Linked DNA regions of Homo sapiens: region 1 is linked to region 2. A link means that fine-mapping ties the variant in region 2 to the expression of a gene that starts in the linked region. Tissue or cell type: pancreas. Region 2 holds a variant in brackets; the other region holds the start of a gene. All regions are shown on one strand. Distances are between the middles of the regions.

Evidence for each region. PIP is the estimated chance that this variant, and not a neighbour inherited with it, causes the effect.
Region 1: it holds the start of EGFR, and the variant in region 2 is fine-mapped to the expression of EGFR in pancreas (GTEx, PIP 0.95).

The regions. Positions count from the first base shown.
Region 1 is chr7:55,016,173-55,021,172 of GRCh38, forward strand. EGFR (epidermal growth factor receptor) reads left to right here and starts at 2,845. Exons shown (of 28, transcript NM_005228.5): 1 at 2,845-3,193. The coding sequence starts at 3,106. It overlaps LOC105375284 (a long non-coding RNA gene), which reads right to left and starts at 2,750. Exons shown (of 4, transcript XR_007060329.1): 1 at 389-2,750. RefSeq lists an enhancer at 3,845-4,519.
Region 2 is chr7:54,958,720-54,969,383 of GRCh38, forward strand. No RefSeq gene overlaps it. Among named protein-coding and RNA genes, the nearest start is that of EGFR, 55 kb to the right of the region's middle. The variant C/T (reference allele first, on the strand shown) is at 4,594.

The DNA.
Region 1 (5,000 bases), 55 kb after region 2:
AGGTGGTCAAATGCCTTTTGCCTAAGATGGAACTTAGAATATTTGAAGACCTCAGATCTTCACCCTGCCAAATAACGTGTTTCTCCTCCCCTTTCACAGAGCATTTGGTTTTAGGAAATTCAGAGCCACATTCCTTATAGACAAGACTAAACTCTTATTCAACATACTCAGAAACTTCTTCTAAGAGGATAACCACTCATCAGAGGAAAAAAGTTTCTCATGTACAGCTGGCAAAGGGATGGAACCATCTGTGTTATTAAAATTGACAGACGCTTATGAGATTTATTAAGGGAAATACTAGAGTCTTAGTACATACTTGCTAATATAGCATACATGAAGGCTTTATCTATAATTTTTTTGGCCAAGCAGAAATTTTGGTATTACTCACCCTAACAAATTTCCAAGACATTATGAAATAGAATTTTAGGTCCTGACATCACCATTTGTCTCAGGTTTTGAAGCGTTGCTGGACAAGAGGGGTAAAACACGGCTCTGCCTTGGATTCAAAGTTGGCCTCTCATACTAGCAAGTATACCTTGGTATCCTGGTCACTTCTCCCGGCCACAGCATCACATTGCTATAAAAGGCAGATACAAGTATTAACCAGCTCACAGGTTATCAGATAAGCTTAGTCTGACCAATGCTTAACACAGCAACTGGGCCACTATTGTCATTCCTGTGGTGGTGGCACACACACCCAGCCTCTGTCCGGGCCATGGTCTAGGACCACCCTCCACAGAGGCTGTGAGCTAGAGCCCTAACTGTGCAGGGCCCTAACTATGCCAGGCTACTTATCTCTCTTAAGAGGACTTCATTAGTGCCTGCTCGGCCATACAGTTTTTTACTTACCAAGTAACACAGTTATCAGCACACTCCAGGTACTAGCCAAGGACTACAAAATCAACGTGAATGTCAGCTTTTGTATCAAAAGCTCAAAGGAGAAACTCAAACTTTACATAGATGTCCCATGAAGATGTTCAGCAAACCCATTCTTCTCTGTTCCCTGGAATCCATCCCAGTATTGTGCTATGTGTGTGTCTAGTAATTCTTTACAAAAAGCTCTGTTTCTTGTGATGCTATCAGATCACATTGAAGAATATACAAGCCGTACTATGAAGGCTGTTGTCTCATATAGTCCTAACGTAGTGAGAACTGATGTTCTTACATGCTGTCTTTTTGGGCACTCAAAGAAATTCCTGTACAGTCTTACAAATCAGTTGTAGCTTAAATTGATTTGTGTTGTGACTTGTACACACAGGTCACATTCCCTTGACAGAAAATATAGTTTAAAACCAAATTTGCAGCCCTTGTTAAGTGAATGCACAGGACTTTATTGTATTCAGGTCTTTTATTGTAAGACTCACTCCTGTCTTCATTTTATGTTCCACTGTTGTGCTTCCCATTTGCCTTTCTCTAGTTTTGTTTTCTGTGTTTCTACGGACTGCTCTCAGCCCAGGTGTGCAGGAAGCACACACATGCCTGCAGAGCCTTCATGGCCTCTGCATTCAGGGCATGACTTCAACGCACAGTGGCTGTACTGATTTGTTAAAACAAAGGAACAGATTACTTCTCCTAATTCACAGGGAAGTTCCAGGTTGTGCGGGCAGTGAGCAGACCTGTGTCTGTCTGCGCTTGCCCTGGTGAAAAACCCCACCGTTCAGGCTGCAGGGTGCGAGACCCAGGCACAAACATTTTGCTGGATGAGGAGGAAAGATGTAAGGTTGCTCCCCTTCAGAGACAGCAAAGGGCAGGTCTGTAGCTTCACTTACTTCAGGATTGTGATTTTTGACAGAGCCGAGAGATCAGGGTTGTTGAACCAGGCCTGAAGGTCCTAGTGAATCTCGTGAAGAGAGGAGGGGTCTGGCTGTAACATGGACCTAGAGGACATTTTTACTGCAGGAGAAGGAACAGTGGGGATGGGGTGGACTTGCCAAAGGAATATAGCTCAAGTTCCTGCAGCCCAAAAAAGCTCAGTTTCTTTTGGCCAAAGCTTCCGCGAGTTTCCCTGGCATTTCTCCTGCGGGAGCTACAGGGGCAGTGGGACACTTAGCCTCTCTAAAAGCACCTCCACGGCTGTTTGTGTCAAGCCTTTATTCCAAGAGCTTCACTTTTGCGAAGTAATGTGCTTCACACATTGGCTTCAAAGTACCCATGGCTGGTTGCAATAAACATTAAGGAGGCCTGTCTCTGCACCCGGAGTTGGGTGCCCTCATTTCAGATGATTTCGAGGGTGCTTGACAAGATCTGAAGGACCCTCGGACTTTAGAGCACCACCTCGGACGCCTGGCACCCCTGCCGCGCGGGCACGGCGACCTCCTCAGCTGCCAGGCCAGCCTCTGATCCCCGAGAGGGTCCCGTAGTGCTGCAGGGGAGGTGGGGACCCGAATAAAGGAGCAGTTTCCCCGTCGGTGCCATTATCCGACGCTGGCTCTAAGGCTCGGCCAGTCTGTCTAAAGCTGGTACAAGTTTGCTTTGTAAAACAAAAGAAGGGAAAGGGGGAAGGGGACCCTGGCACAGATTTGGCTCGACCTGGACATAGGCTGGGCCTGCAAGTCCGCGGGGACCGGGTCCAGAGGGGCAGTGCTGGGAACGCCCCTCTCGGAAATTAACTCCTCAGGGCACCCGCTCCCCTCCCATGCGCCGCCCCACTCCCGCCGGAGACTAGGTCCCGCGGGGGCCACCGCTGTCCACCGCCTCCGGCGGCCGCTGGCCTTGGGTCCCCGCTGCTGGTTCTCCTCCCTCCTCCTCGCATTCTCCTCCTCCTCTGCTCCTCCCGATCCCTCCTCCGCCGCCTGGTCCCTCCTCCTCCCGCCCTGCCTCCCCGCGCCTCGGCCCGCGCGAGCTAGACGTCCGGGCAGCCCCCGGCGCAGCGCGGCCGCAGCAGCCTCCGCCCCCCGCACGGTGTGAGCGCCCGACGCGGCCGAGGCGGCCGGAGTCCCGAGCTAGCCCCGGCGGCCGCCGCCGCCCAGACCGGACGACAGGCCACCTCGTCGGCGTCCGCCCGAGTCCCCGCCTCGCCGCCAACGCCACAACCACCGCGCACGGCCCCCTGACTCCGTCCAGTATTGATCGGGAGAGCCGGAGCGAGCTCTTCGGGGAGCAGCGATGCGACCCTCCGGGACGGCCGGGGCAGCGCTCCTGGCGCTGCTGGCTGCGCTCTGCCCGGCGAGTCGGGCTCTGGAGGAAAAGAAAGGTAAGGGCGTGTCTCGCCGGCTCCCGCGCCGCCCCCGGATCGCGCCCCGGACCCCGCAGCCCGCCCAACCGCGCACCGGCGCACCGGCTCGGCGCCCGCGCCCCCGCCCGTCCTTTCCTGTTTCCTTGAGATCAGCTGCGCCGCCGACCGGGACCGCGGGAGGAACGGGACGTTTCGTTCTTCGGCCGGGAGAGTCTGGGGCGGGCGGAGGAGGAGACGCGTGGGACACCGGGCTGCAGGCCAGGCGGGGAACGGCCGCCGGGACCTCCGGCGCCCCGAACCGCTCCCAACTTTCTTCCCTCACTTTCCCCGCCCAGCTGCGCAGGATCGGCGTCAGTGGGCGAAAGCCGGGTGCTGGTGGGCGCCTGGGGCCGGGGTCCCGCACGTGCGCCCCGCGCTGTCTTCCCAGGGCGCGACGGGGTCCTGGCGCGCACCCGAGGGGCGGGCGCTGCCCACCCGCCGAGACTGCACTGTTTAGGGAAGCTGAGGAAGGAACCCAAAAATACAGCCTCCCCTCGGACCCCGCGGGACAGGCGGCTTTCTGAGAGGACCTCCCCGCCTCCGCCCTCCGCGCAGGTCTCAAACTGAAGCCGGCGCCCGCCAGCCTGGCCCCGGCCCCTCTCCAGGTCCCCGCGATCCTCGTTCCCCAGTGTGGAGTCGCAGCCTCGACCTGGGAGCTGGGAGAACTCGTCTACCACCACCTGCGGCTCCCGGGGAGGGGTGGTGCTGGCGGCGGTTAGTTTCCTCGTTGGCAAAAGGCAGGTGGGGTCCGACCCGCCCCTTGGGCGCAGACCCCGGCCGCTCGCCTCGCCCGGTGCGCCCTCGTCTTGCCTATCCAAGAGTGCCCCCCACCTCCCGGGGACCCCAGCTCCCTCCTGGGCGCCCGCGCCGAAAGCCCCAGGCTCTCCTTCGATGGCCGCCTCGCGGAGACGTCCGGGTCTGCTCCACCTGCAGCCCTTCGGTCGCGCCTGGGCTTCGCGGTGGAGCGGGACGCGGCTGTCCGGCCACTGCAGGGGGGGATCGCGGGACTCTTGAGCGGAAGCCCCGGAAGCAGAGCTCATCCTGGCCAACACCATGGTGTTTCAAAATGGGGCTCACAGCAAACTTCTCCTCAAAACCCGGAGACTTTCTTTCTTGGATGTCTCTTTTTGCTGTTTGAAGAATTTGAGCCAACCAAAATATTAAACCTGTCTTACACACACACACACACACACACACACACACACACCGGATTGCTGTCCCTGGTTCAAGTGTGCCAAGTGTGCAGACAGAACATGAGCGAGTCTGGCTTCGTGACTACCGACCATAAACCCACTTGACAGGGGAAACATGCCTTGGAAGGTTTAATTGCACAATTCCAACCTTGAGCTGCGCGGGTTCCAAGAGCCAGGCCCGTACTTGCTGTTGATGTCATTGGCTTGGGGAGTTGGGGTTTGGTGCCCAGCGCGGTCGTTGGGGGAGGGGCAAGGCATAGAACAGTGGTTCCCAGACCTTGCTGCACATTGGAATTACCTGGGATTAAAAAAAAAAAAATCAAAACAAAAACCAGTGTCTGGCTCCCGCCCCCAGACATTCTGATTTAATTGGCATGGGGCAAGACCTGGACTTGGGATTTTTTTTAATGCTCTTCATGTGATCTGTTGGGCAGCCAGATTTGGGGATCACTAGACGGAAGAAGGATTGTTAAAGTCTCCGGAGATGTTACTTGCCAATGCTAAGAGCTCTTTGAGGACATCTGGAATTGTTACAATATTGCCAAATATAGGAAAGAGGGAAAAGGTAGAGTGTGATTCCAATAATAAAGGAT
Region 2 (10,664 bases):
ACTACCTGGTGTATGGTTAGATGGGTCTGGAGCTCAGATATGGATGATGTTTAGCTTCATTATTTGCTGGTTTATTCTAAAAAATTTAAACATATGCCGAGATTAGGAAAATAAGATAGTGGACCCTATACGTATCCATCACCAAGCTTCCAAGATTGTCATTCCACTGCCAATCTGGTTTTACCTATGCCCTCACCTATGCCCAACCTTAACTATTTTGAAGCAAATAGCAGACATCACATCTTTTCATCCATAAATGTCTCAAGAATGAAGATTTTTTTAAACACACAATACCTCTATCACACCAAAATATTAGCAATAATTTCTTAATATTATCAAATATCCAGTTATGTACAAATTTTTCCCATTGACTAATACGTATTTTTAAAATCTGAATCAGAATTCAAACCAGGATGTCTCTTAAGGTTTTTGCAGACTCTAAAATCTTTCTCTCTCTCTTTCTTTCTCCTGCCATCTTTCTCTCTCTCTCCATTTTTTTACCTCCCTTCTTCCCTTACTCTTTCTCAATTTATTTGTTGAAGAAAGTGAGTAGTTTGTTGGTAGAATTTTATATAGTCTACATTTTGCTGATTGTATCCCAATGATGCCCTGTCTCCTATATTTCCTGTTAACTGGTAATTCAATCTAGATATTTTATCACATCCACGTTCAAATTTTTAGCAATAAAATACAACAAACCCCCCATATCTGTGTGTCCTGCACTCATGGATTCAAGCAACTGCAGATAGAAAATAGTTTTTAGAAAATCGTGTCTGTACTGAACATGTATAGACTTCTTTTTTCTTGTCATTATTTCTTAAACAATAAAATATTGTAACTATTACATAACATTTACATTGTATTAGATATTATAAGTAATATAGAGGTGATTTAAATCATATGGGAGAATGTATGTAGGCTACATACTAATACGAAGCCATTTTTTATCAGGAGCTTGAGCATCTGTAGATTTTGGCACCCACGGGGGCCCTGAAAGCAGTGCCTGCAGATGCTGAGGGATGCCTGCCCTCATGCGATGCCAGCACTTCCAGCACTAGGCACAGAAGCCCGCTAGCCTCACCTTTCTGACATTAGCAGACACTGGTGGTAAGGGCCCAACCTATTATTTCATTAGATGTGAAAAGATGCTAACAGTCAACTCCACCAATCCTTCCTTATTGCTTATCAGCTGGAAGAGATCACCAGAAGTCACGAAACAGCAGTGCCAGGCCGGGATGAGGACATCCAGGAAGAGGGTACAGGGTGAGGCCTGGGGACCCTCAGCACTTCAGGAGAAATGAGAAGGGGGGATGCTGAGAACAGCCTGGAAAGTGAAGGTCCTGCCAGAGGGGAGAATGCCTTCAAAGAAGCCAAGGTGGAGGAGCGTCATAAGCGACAGGGAGGGCCACAGTACCCAGCATCCTGGCATAACAAAGAGATAAAGCAGGAGAATCACATGGAAACGACAGTTCCTTGACCACAATTTCCATCATTGTATTTGAAGGAATGAAAGGCGATTGACCTTGATTTAGCGCCCTATATGACACCTCCAGCCTCCAAAGCTGGCTTCCACGCAGGAGGCATGACTTTCCCCTGCATTCCCATTCCCACTCGCCTTCCTCTGCCTGTGGGAAGCAGTCAGGATAATCTAGGCTGATTTGCTTGAAGAAGCAGATGATACATGATTGGGGGAAAAGCAACAGCCTGTCCTTGTTTTTTTGTTTTTTTTTTAAGTCTAGTCTCTGAGTAAAAGGAAAGTCTCATAAAACATAGTAGCAACCCATTTAGAAGCTGTGATGAGAAATCGCAGTTTCCTCATTGGCCAACCCAGAGAAAGGCTTTCCTCTTCAGGGGGATGGCACAGAGTTGGAAAGGAAATGAAGACAATGCAGGCAGTATCGGTGGACTCCTGAGAAAATGATGACTCAGGCAGTTGGTGGGGAGAAGTGTCACATTGTCTGAGGATGTCCAATTGCAAGGGGGAATTATGCCCCTTAAGTAGGTGGAGCCAAGGGAGGTAGCAAGAACTAGCCCAAAAGTATATATGGATGTGATTAGTCACAATGGCTGTAATAGTCATACAGGGCTCCCTTCCCACCATGGTCCAGGAAGCAACTGACTCCAGGGGCCTGAGAATGGTACTGAAGCAGAACGAAATCCTCCTTGACCCTAACAATACTGAAACAAAGTGTGATTCAGCAGCAAGCCACCCTCAGGAGCCTAGGACCAAGGACTAAATGGATTTTCAGCCATTGTCAGAGTGGATGGGTAAAGTCAAGGACCTGCCTACACAGATGACCCCCACCCACCCAGCATCACGATGACCATGATCTGTGCTGCTTCTATGCAAGCCCCTGACTATCTGCGAAACACCGGGAATTGAAGTGAGACACAAATCCAAATTAGGTTTCTGTCAAATAGCAAGATGGAGTTAAAAAGGAAATTGAGTTAGTGTTTAAAATAGAAAGAGAGAGGACAGAGGGAGGGAGGGAAGGAAGAAAAGAAAACAAGAAAGTTACAATTCTTTATATACAAATTCATGTCTAGATGTTTATGTATTACACACTCTCCTGCCCACACACACCCACCTCTAAAATTTGGAAAACAATAATTTTGAAAGCCCAATATTTGCTAATTCTTAATTTCTTCTACTAGTAGCAACAAGGAGTTAAATTTTCTTTCCTTCTATTCGGAGGCATTTCTGCCCTTAGAGACCAGCCCACATCAGGTAATAACACGGCAGCCTCAAATTGAGACCCTTCATGTTTGTTATGCTCATTTCATAATCATTGTCATCTCTGATGAGTCATTTCACCCTCACCATAAATCATTTATGACACTTGAATATAAATATGAAAATAGAAAGCTTTATTTTAAAAGTGTAAGCAGGCTGGGCATGGTGGCTCATGCCTATAATACCAGCACTTTGGGAGGCCGAGGTGGGTGGATCACCTGAAGTCAGGAATTTGAGACCAGCCTGGTCAATGCAGTGAAACCCCGTCTACTAAAAACACAAAAATTAGCCAGGTGCGGTGGGGGTGCGCCTGTAATCCCAGCTCTCCAGAGGCTGAGGCAGGAGAATTGCTTGAACCTGGGAGGGGAGGTTGCAGTGAACCCAGATCACAACACTGCCCTCCAGCCTGGGTGACAGAGTGAGACTCCTTCTCAAAAAAAAAAAAAAAAAAAAAGTAAGCAACAAACTCCAAGCTATAAAACTTTTGAAAGTTTTGCATCCCTGAGGCCATGTAGCCAGGCAATGCCTGGGTAGTGAGCACTTGGGTTGTTAGCCTGGTGTTGCTCTTTGTCCTGGGCTCAGAGCTGGGGCCGACAACACATACAAACCACCCACATCTTGGCAAATATATGCCGCCATTGTCACGTTTCCACCAGCTCGAAAGTGAGGTTAAAAAAAATAATCCTTACCAGCCTCAAGCTCTAAGAAGGGAAACTCATTGCAAAAGGATCAGAAGGAAAAATAAATAAATAATTTTATTCTCTTCTCTATAGCTTATCCACACCCTAATTAGCAGCAGGATCCTAATCCATATCCTGCTAATACATATCCTATTGGTTCTGTTTCTTTGGAGAACCCCTGACTAATACATCAATACTCTGCAGAGATTTCTTGATTTAAAATAACAATGATATTTTGGGTGAGGAGTAATTAAGTGATTCTAAAGTTTATCTGTAAGCATACATAGAAGAGTTAGAAAAGAGTGTTTGCTATTGTGAATAGTGCCGCAATAAACATACGTGTGCATGTGTCTTTATAGCAGCATGATTTACAATCCTTTGGATATATACCCTGTAACGGGATGGCTGGGTCAAATGGTATTTCTAGTTCTAGATCCTTGAGGAATCACCACACTGTCTTCCACAATGGTTGAACTAGTTTACAATTCCACCAACAGTGTAAAAGTGTTCCTATTTCTCCACATCCTCTCCAGCACCTGTTGTTTCCTGACTTTTTAATGATTGCCATTCTAACTGGTGTGAGATGGTATCTCATTGTGGTTTTGATTTGCATTTCTCTGATGGCCAGTGATGATGAGCATCTTTTCATGTGTCTTTTGGCTGCATAAATGTCTTCTTGTGAGAAGTGTCTGTTCATATCCTTTGCCCACTTTTTGATGGGGTTGTTTGATTTTTTCTTGTAAATTTGTTTAAGTTCTTTGTGGATTCTGGATATTAGCCCTTTGTCAGATGGGTAGATTGTAAAAATTTTCTCCCATTCTGTAGGTTGCTTGTTCACTTTGACGATAGTTTCTTTTGCTGTGCAGAAGCTCTTTAGTTTAATTAGATCCCATTTGTCAATTTTGGCTTCTGTTGTCATTGCTTTTGGTGTTTTAGTCATGTTACTGGGTGCAGCACACCAACATGGCACATGTATACATATGTAACAAACCTGCACATTGTACACATGTACCCTAGAACTTAAAGTATAATAAAAAATTAGATAGGGGGAAAAAAGAGTGGTGACCTATATTAGTTGTCTATTGTTACATAAAAAATTAATCTCAAACTGAAAAGCAACCTTTAAAGGCATTGGGCAGCAGTTTTGGCAGGGTGTTCATATTGTCTTTGGAAGCCATG[C/T]GCTAATCTGGAAATCATTCCCATGTATTTATCAGGAAGTAAGTCAAGGGTAAGCATAAAGAGTTTCCAAAGTGTTGGAACCTGGTGTTTCCAAAGAGGCAACACATTTCTGCCAAGGATCATAGACTTTGCCAGAATTCTGAGGACAACAGGGCTCCAGGTGTAACCAGAACACCAATAATTCACATGTCAGGCTGGGAGTTAGAGTCCATCACAATATGAATACAGCTAAAGTTTGTTTTTAATAAAACATTTTCTGTAAGGCAAATTAGGATAACTACTAAGGCCTCACAGCTGATAAATGGCAGAGCAGGAATTTGAATCCTGTTCACTTTGTTTACAAAGCTTGTGCTCTTACCATATGTGATGATTAATTTCATGTATCAACTTGACTGAGCCATGGGGTGCCCAGATATTTGGTGAAACATTATTTTAAATGTGTCCATAAGAGTTTTTCTGGATGAGATTAGCATTTGAATTGGTAGGCTGAATAAAGTACCTTGCCCTGCCCACTGTGGGTGGACCTCATCCAATCTATCAAAGGCCTAAATAGAAGAAAAAGTCTAAGTCTGAGTAAGAGAGAATTTGTGCTCTTGGTCTTCACTTGCCTTCAGACTCGGAATTGGTCTAGAACTTAGGAGATTCGCTCGCCTGGTTCTCAGGGTTTTGGCTTCCTGGGTCTCCACCTTGCCAACTGCGGATCTTGGGACTTCTTGGCCTCCACAATCACATGCCAATTCCTTATAATAAGTAAATAAATACAAATCCTGTTTCTCTGGAGAACCCTGACAAGTACATCAATATGCTACAGAAAATTCTTGACTTAAAGTAACAATGATATTTTGGGTGGGGAACAATTAAATGATACTGAAGTCTGTCTGCAAGCATAAATAGAAGAGCTAGAAAAGAGTGGTGATCTATATTCTGTCTATTGTTGCATAAAAATCACTCCAATATTTAGACACAAAACAACAAACACTCATCATCTCATGATTTCTTTGGTTTGAGGGTTTGGGAGTGGCTTAGCTTAGTGGTTTTGGTTGAAAGTCACTCAGGATATTTGGCAATGATGAACATTTTATTAATGTCCTAAAACTGGGTTGTGAGGTTGGTTAAAATTTACTAAAAGTTATTAAATGGATCTATGGTCTGAGCGTTTGTGTCCCCTTCAAATTCTTATGTTGAAACCTAATCCCCAATGTACTAGTATTAACAGGCAGGGCTTTGGGGGTGATCAGGCCATGACGGTGCAGCATTCATGGATGAGGCTAGTGCCTTTACAGAAGAGCCCAGGGGAGCATGCATGCCCCTCCCACTCTGGAGACTGCAGCAAGAGGTGCCATCTATGGAGGGAAGGGAGAGCCCTCACCAGACACAGAATATGCTGGAGCCTGTATCTGCAACTTCCCAGCCTCTAGAATTTCCCAGCCTCTAGAAGGAATACATTTCTGTTCTTGGTAAGCCAGCCAGTTTATGGAATGTTTGTTATAGCAGCCCAAGATGGTTGAGACAAGTGGTAGACTTATGATGGGTGAGTATATGAATTCTATCTCAGTAAAGCTGTTAAAAAGAAAAAGAAAAACAAAGCTAAAAGTTGTTTCCTTAAAAAAATTAGTGAAATCAGTAAAGTTTAGCAAGACAGATCAAGGAAGAGAAAAGGAGAAAATACAAATTACCAATATTAGGAATGAAAAGAGAAACATAACTGTGTATCCTACAGTTATTAAAAAGGTAACAAGAGTATAATATAAACAACTTTACAACCTAGAATTTGCCAATTTAGATGAAACAGATGAATAAATTCTTTGAAAAAAATTCCAAAAGTAATAGGAAAAGAAATAAAGAATCTTAGGTATTTTATGAGGCCAGAATAACTTAGATACCAAGACTTTACAAGCACCTTACAAAATACATACATGCAAAACTCTTAAATAAAAATTAGCAATCAAATATAACAATATACAAAAAATACATTATTACCAAGTAAATTTATTCTAGGAGGTTAATAGTAGCTTAATACTTGAAAGATATTCATTATAACTCACCACATGTGGTGAAATTCAAATACGACCACAAAGGCTTTAATACTCCCCCTTCAGTACTGTGGTAGAACGTAATTCCCCTGCCCTTGAGTGTGAGCTGGACTTACTGACTCCTTTGTAACTAATAGAATGAAACATAGTGATGATATCTAACTTCAGAGACCAGTTTATAAAGGACACTGTGATTTTCTCATCTCTCCCTTTCTTGGATTATAGTCAACCCTCTATATCTGTGGGTTCCTCATCCATGGATTTCATTGACTCCACATTGAAAATATTCAAAATAAATAAATAACAATGCAACAACAAAAATAATACAAATAAAACATACAGTATAACAACTATTTACATAGTGCTTACATAGTATTTGGTATTATAAATAACCTAGAGATAATTTAAAGTGTATGGAGGAGAAAGGTATATGTGTGTAGGTTATATGCGAATACTATGCCATTTTATATCAGGAACTTGAGCATCTGTGGATTTTGATATCTGCAAAGGATACTGAAACCAATACCCCACAAATACTGAAGGATGACTATACTCACCTTGAAGTAAACAAACAGCTTTACGGTAAAATATATATCACATAAGATTTGCCATTTTAACTATTTTTAAGTGTAAAATTCAGTGGCATTAATTACATCTCCACTGTCTCATTCCAAAATTCTTTCCATACCCCAAGCAGAAACTCTGTACCCATTAATCTGTTACCGATTTTAAACAATAAAAGTTTTCATTTTCTTTCATTATCTCATTGGACATAAGATATAGTCAGCAATAACTTAGTTAAAGCCTTTTCTTATATTTAAATGTAATTATAGGATACTTTTCTTGGGAAGGGAGGAATGACAATTGATTCTAACCACAGTCTAATGACTTTAACTGTTCTGGAGCTAAGTTTACCTGTCTTTAGAAGGTTTGGAACCATGGTATTAACTACATCCTCTATTTCATGAACAGCTTCCTTGGGCACAATAGTTATGTTCTACCCATTGAGATAGATACAAAACAGGGTGAGATGTGTTCAGGAAAATAAGCTTGTTATTAATACTTTTAATATAACAAATACTGTTATGGTCCAGACACCAAACTGAGCAATTTACAACGTTTACCTCATTTAATCCTCATGACACCCCTATGACATGGTTACTATTTCTATGTGCATTATTCAGAATAAGCCTGTGACATCTCAGCAATGTCACTGAGCCACACACTCACCCTCCTTTAGGTAACACCTTCACTACCTAAGGCAGGTGAAAAAGGAATCATAACCATGAGAGCTAGGTCAGGGGACAGAGTGGAATCAAGACACTAGGGTCACCCTTGTGAGAAGAGCATATAAACTATCATGCTAGGATGCTTTGACATCTGACTTGAGTTTTCTTTGTGTTGGGCACGCATCGCATAGTGTGGTGTTAAGTACGTGGGTTGACTCTGAAATAAAGCCATCTGGGTTTACATGAGAGCTATGGAATTTATTAAGTCTTAGAATTTACTAAAGCTTTTACTTACGAAGGCAAGTTAACAAACCTGTGTAAGTCTCTATTCTGAATAATGCACATAGAAATAGTAACCATGTCATAGGGGTGTCATGAGGATTAAATGAGGTAAACCTCGTAAATTGCTCAGCTTGGTGTCTGGACCATAACAGCAGTTGTTATATTAAAAGTATTAAATTAAAATGAAACATCAATAAATGTCAGTAAGTGAAGGTTTATGTGCTGCTTTTGAGATTCATAAACATGGCTGAAAAGAGAAGGGGTTTAATGAACAAGACTGTTCAAAATGTCAAGTTTACAGATTATCAAAACTGTTTCTTTAAATAGTGTTTGGATGTCAAGTTTTGGAATGGAGCAAATTAAATATTCCTTTCACAGTCTTTCTCTTCCAATTCTAAGATGCCAAGTTTCAGACAAGTGCCTGAATTCCAAGTGACATTCCAACATAGCCCTGTTATAAAGTGCCTTTATGCTCATTCTTCTATAACCTTGATTTAGTCCATTTGTTTTTTGGAGGAGGAGGGTTTCACCTTCAATAGCTACGTGCGAAGTCTAGAGACACATTCAAGTTTATGAGAAGTTTGTACTTTGCATTGTTTATGATTATTCTGACTCAAGCTGAATGGCCCATTTCTCTGTATTGCGACAGCCCGGGCAATTGCACACCTGAGCATGTCCTTGGAATGCGTGAGACACAAACATTCCAAACTGTAGGGATGCCAACTATTCCAACTATGTATCCAGAGTTCCCCACACGTATCTTAGCAAACAAGAACAAAACAACTCGATCCCATTGCTTGAACATGTTGGGCCACCTCATGTTCTCAGGCCACCATCCTCCACCTCAGGTCACGTGGTGAACATCCATAAGTAAGGATTATTCAGACTGAAGGCTAACAAGGAAATAAATAAATGACCCAGGATAAGCCATGGTATCTAGTTCAGGGTTTTTTTAGAGACAGTGGATAGAGCAGTCATTGGGTCTACTTATGACCAGGTCAATGATTTCCCGAAGTCTAAATACATCCAACAGATGTGACACAGTAGACTGCCATGGTCTTGGTAGCCAAGGAATTTGCTCCCAAGTGGAAGAGAAGGGAGCAGTGGTGGTTCTTGATATCCTGTGGGCATTCTCAGCCCAGAAAAGGGAGGCTCTTATGAACCTTCTGAGGAATAATACATTCTTTTAAACACAGAAGAATCTAGCAGAAGCTTATACAGGGAGAGGACTGCAAGTGTGAACCAAGACCTAGCACCTGGCAGGCCAGTCAAATAACCTGGCCATACTTGGTGGTGGGGAGAAAGGAAGCCGGCCCAGTGTTCCTACAAGCACTGCCCAGCTCGATTCCCAGGCCTGTGGCAAAGCACCACATGCGGTCTTCATTTCACTCTGGAAGCTGTCAGTACAGCCCAGGTGTTTCTGCTGCAGGCTCGAAAGGGCTGAAACTGCCGGTGGCCATTTGGGGTTGGGGTTGAGAGACAGGGACTGACAATTGCAAAGCCTTGAAATACAACCGCTACTAATCACAAGGAATGAAAGTATTGCCATGTTGACTATGCAACATTTAGTAACAATAGTACATTTTAAAATTAGTGTTTGCTTAATTGTTGCTCAATTACATTGATGCTGCTATCCCCAAATGCCAAACTATTTCCACTTTTCTGTTGCAGAAAAAAGAACATCACCTCTATAGTTATAACCTTGACATAGAAAATAAGTATATATTTTGTTTTTGTATTTATGCTAACTTTGAATATGTTTTATGTTGCATAAACTCCACAGTTATTATTTTAAGTTCTGCATTTTAAAATTTATTTCCATTTTTATCTTATGGTAGAATATTAAGGTTGATGCCAATAATTTGCTATTATATGTAAATACACAATGATCATCTTCTTACTTTTAGATAAAGTCACAGTAGTAGGATCCTGATCAAAGGTATTTTTACTTGTCAGTATGTTTTTCTGTCAGTTTTCACAGGACAGATGCTGCAAACGTGGCTTCAGTAACACTGCATTCATTACGTCAGGTATGTCACAGGGGGACACCTCCTTCACTGCTGACACCTCATTAATCGTAAAAGGTATCTTATCAGTCTTCTAAATATAATTTCATTCACACATCACAATGTTAATCATCATTTGATGTTTGCATATTAAAAATATTTCCTACTATGCAAATTTTCTGTACTTAAACTTGAAGCTCTCATTCAATTCTCATTGGTTTGAATAACAAATACATTTTCCTGTATAAGCCAAAAATATTTTCCAAGTTATTTGTTTTTCCTTTTGATAGGTATTTTTCATATATGTTTAATGATTTGTATAGTCTCATGACTGGGAGTCACTGGGAGATCTTACCTCTTGCAGCACCCACGCTCCCATACTTGACACAGTCCTAAAACTAATGACAGCATCATCTCACTTACACGCGGGATGTAGCAAGGGTGGATTCACGTGCATGGAGAGCAGAACGGAGGTGACCAGAGGCTGCAGGGAGAGGCTGGGGAGGTGTTGGTCAAAAGAT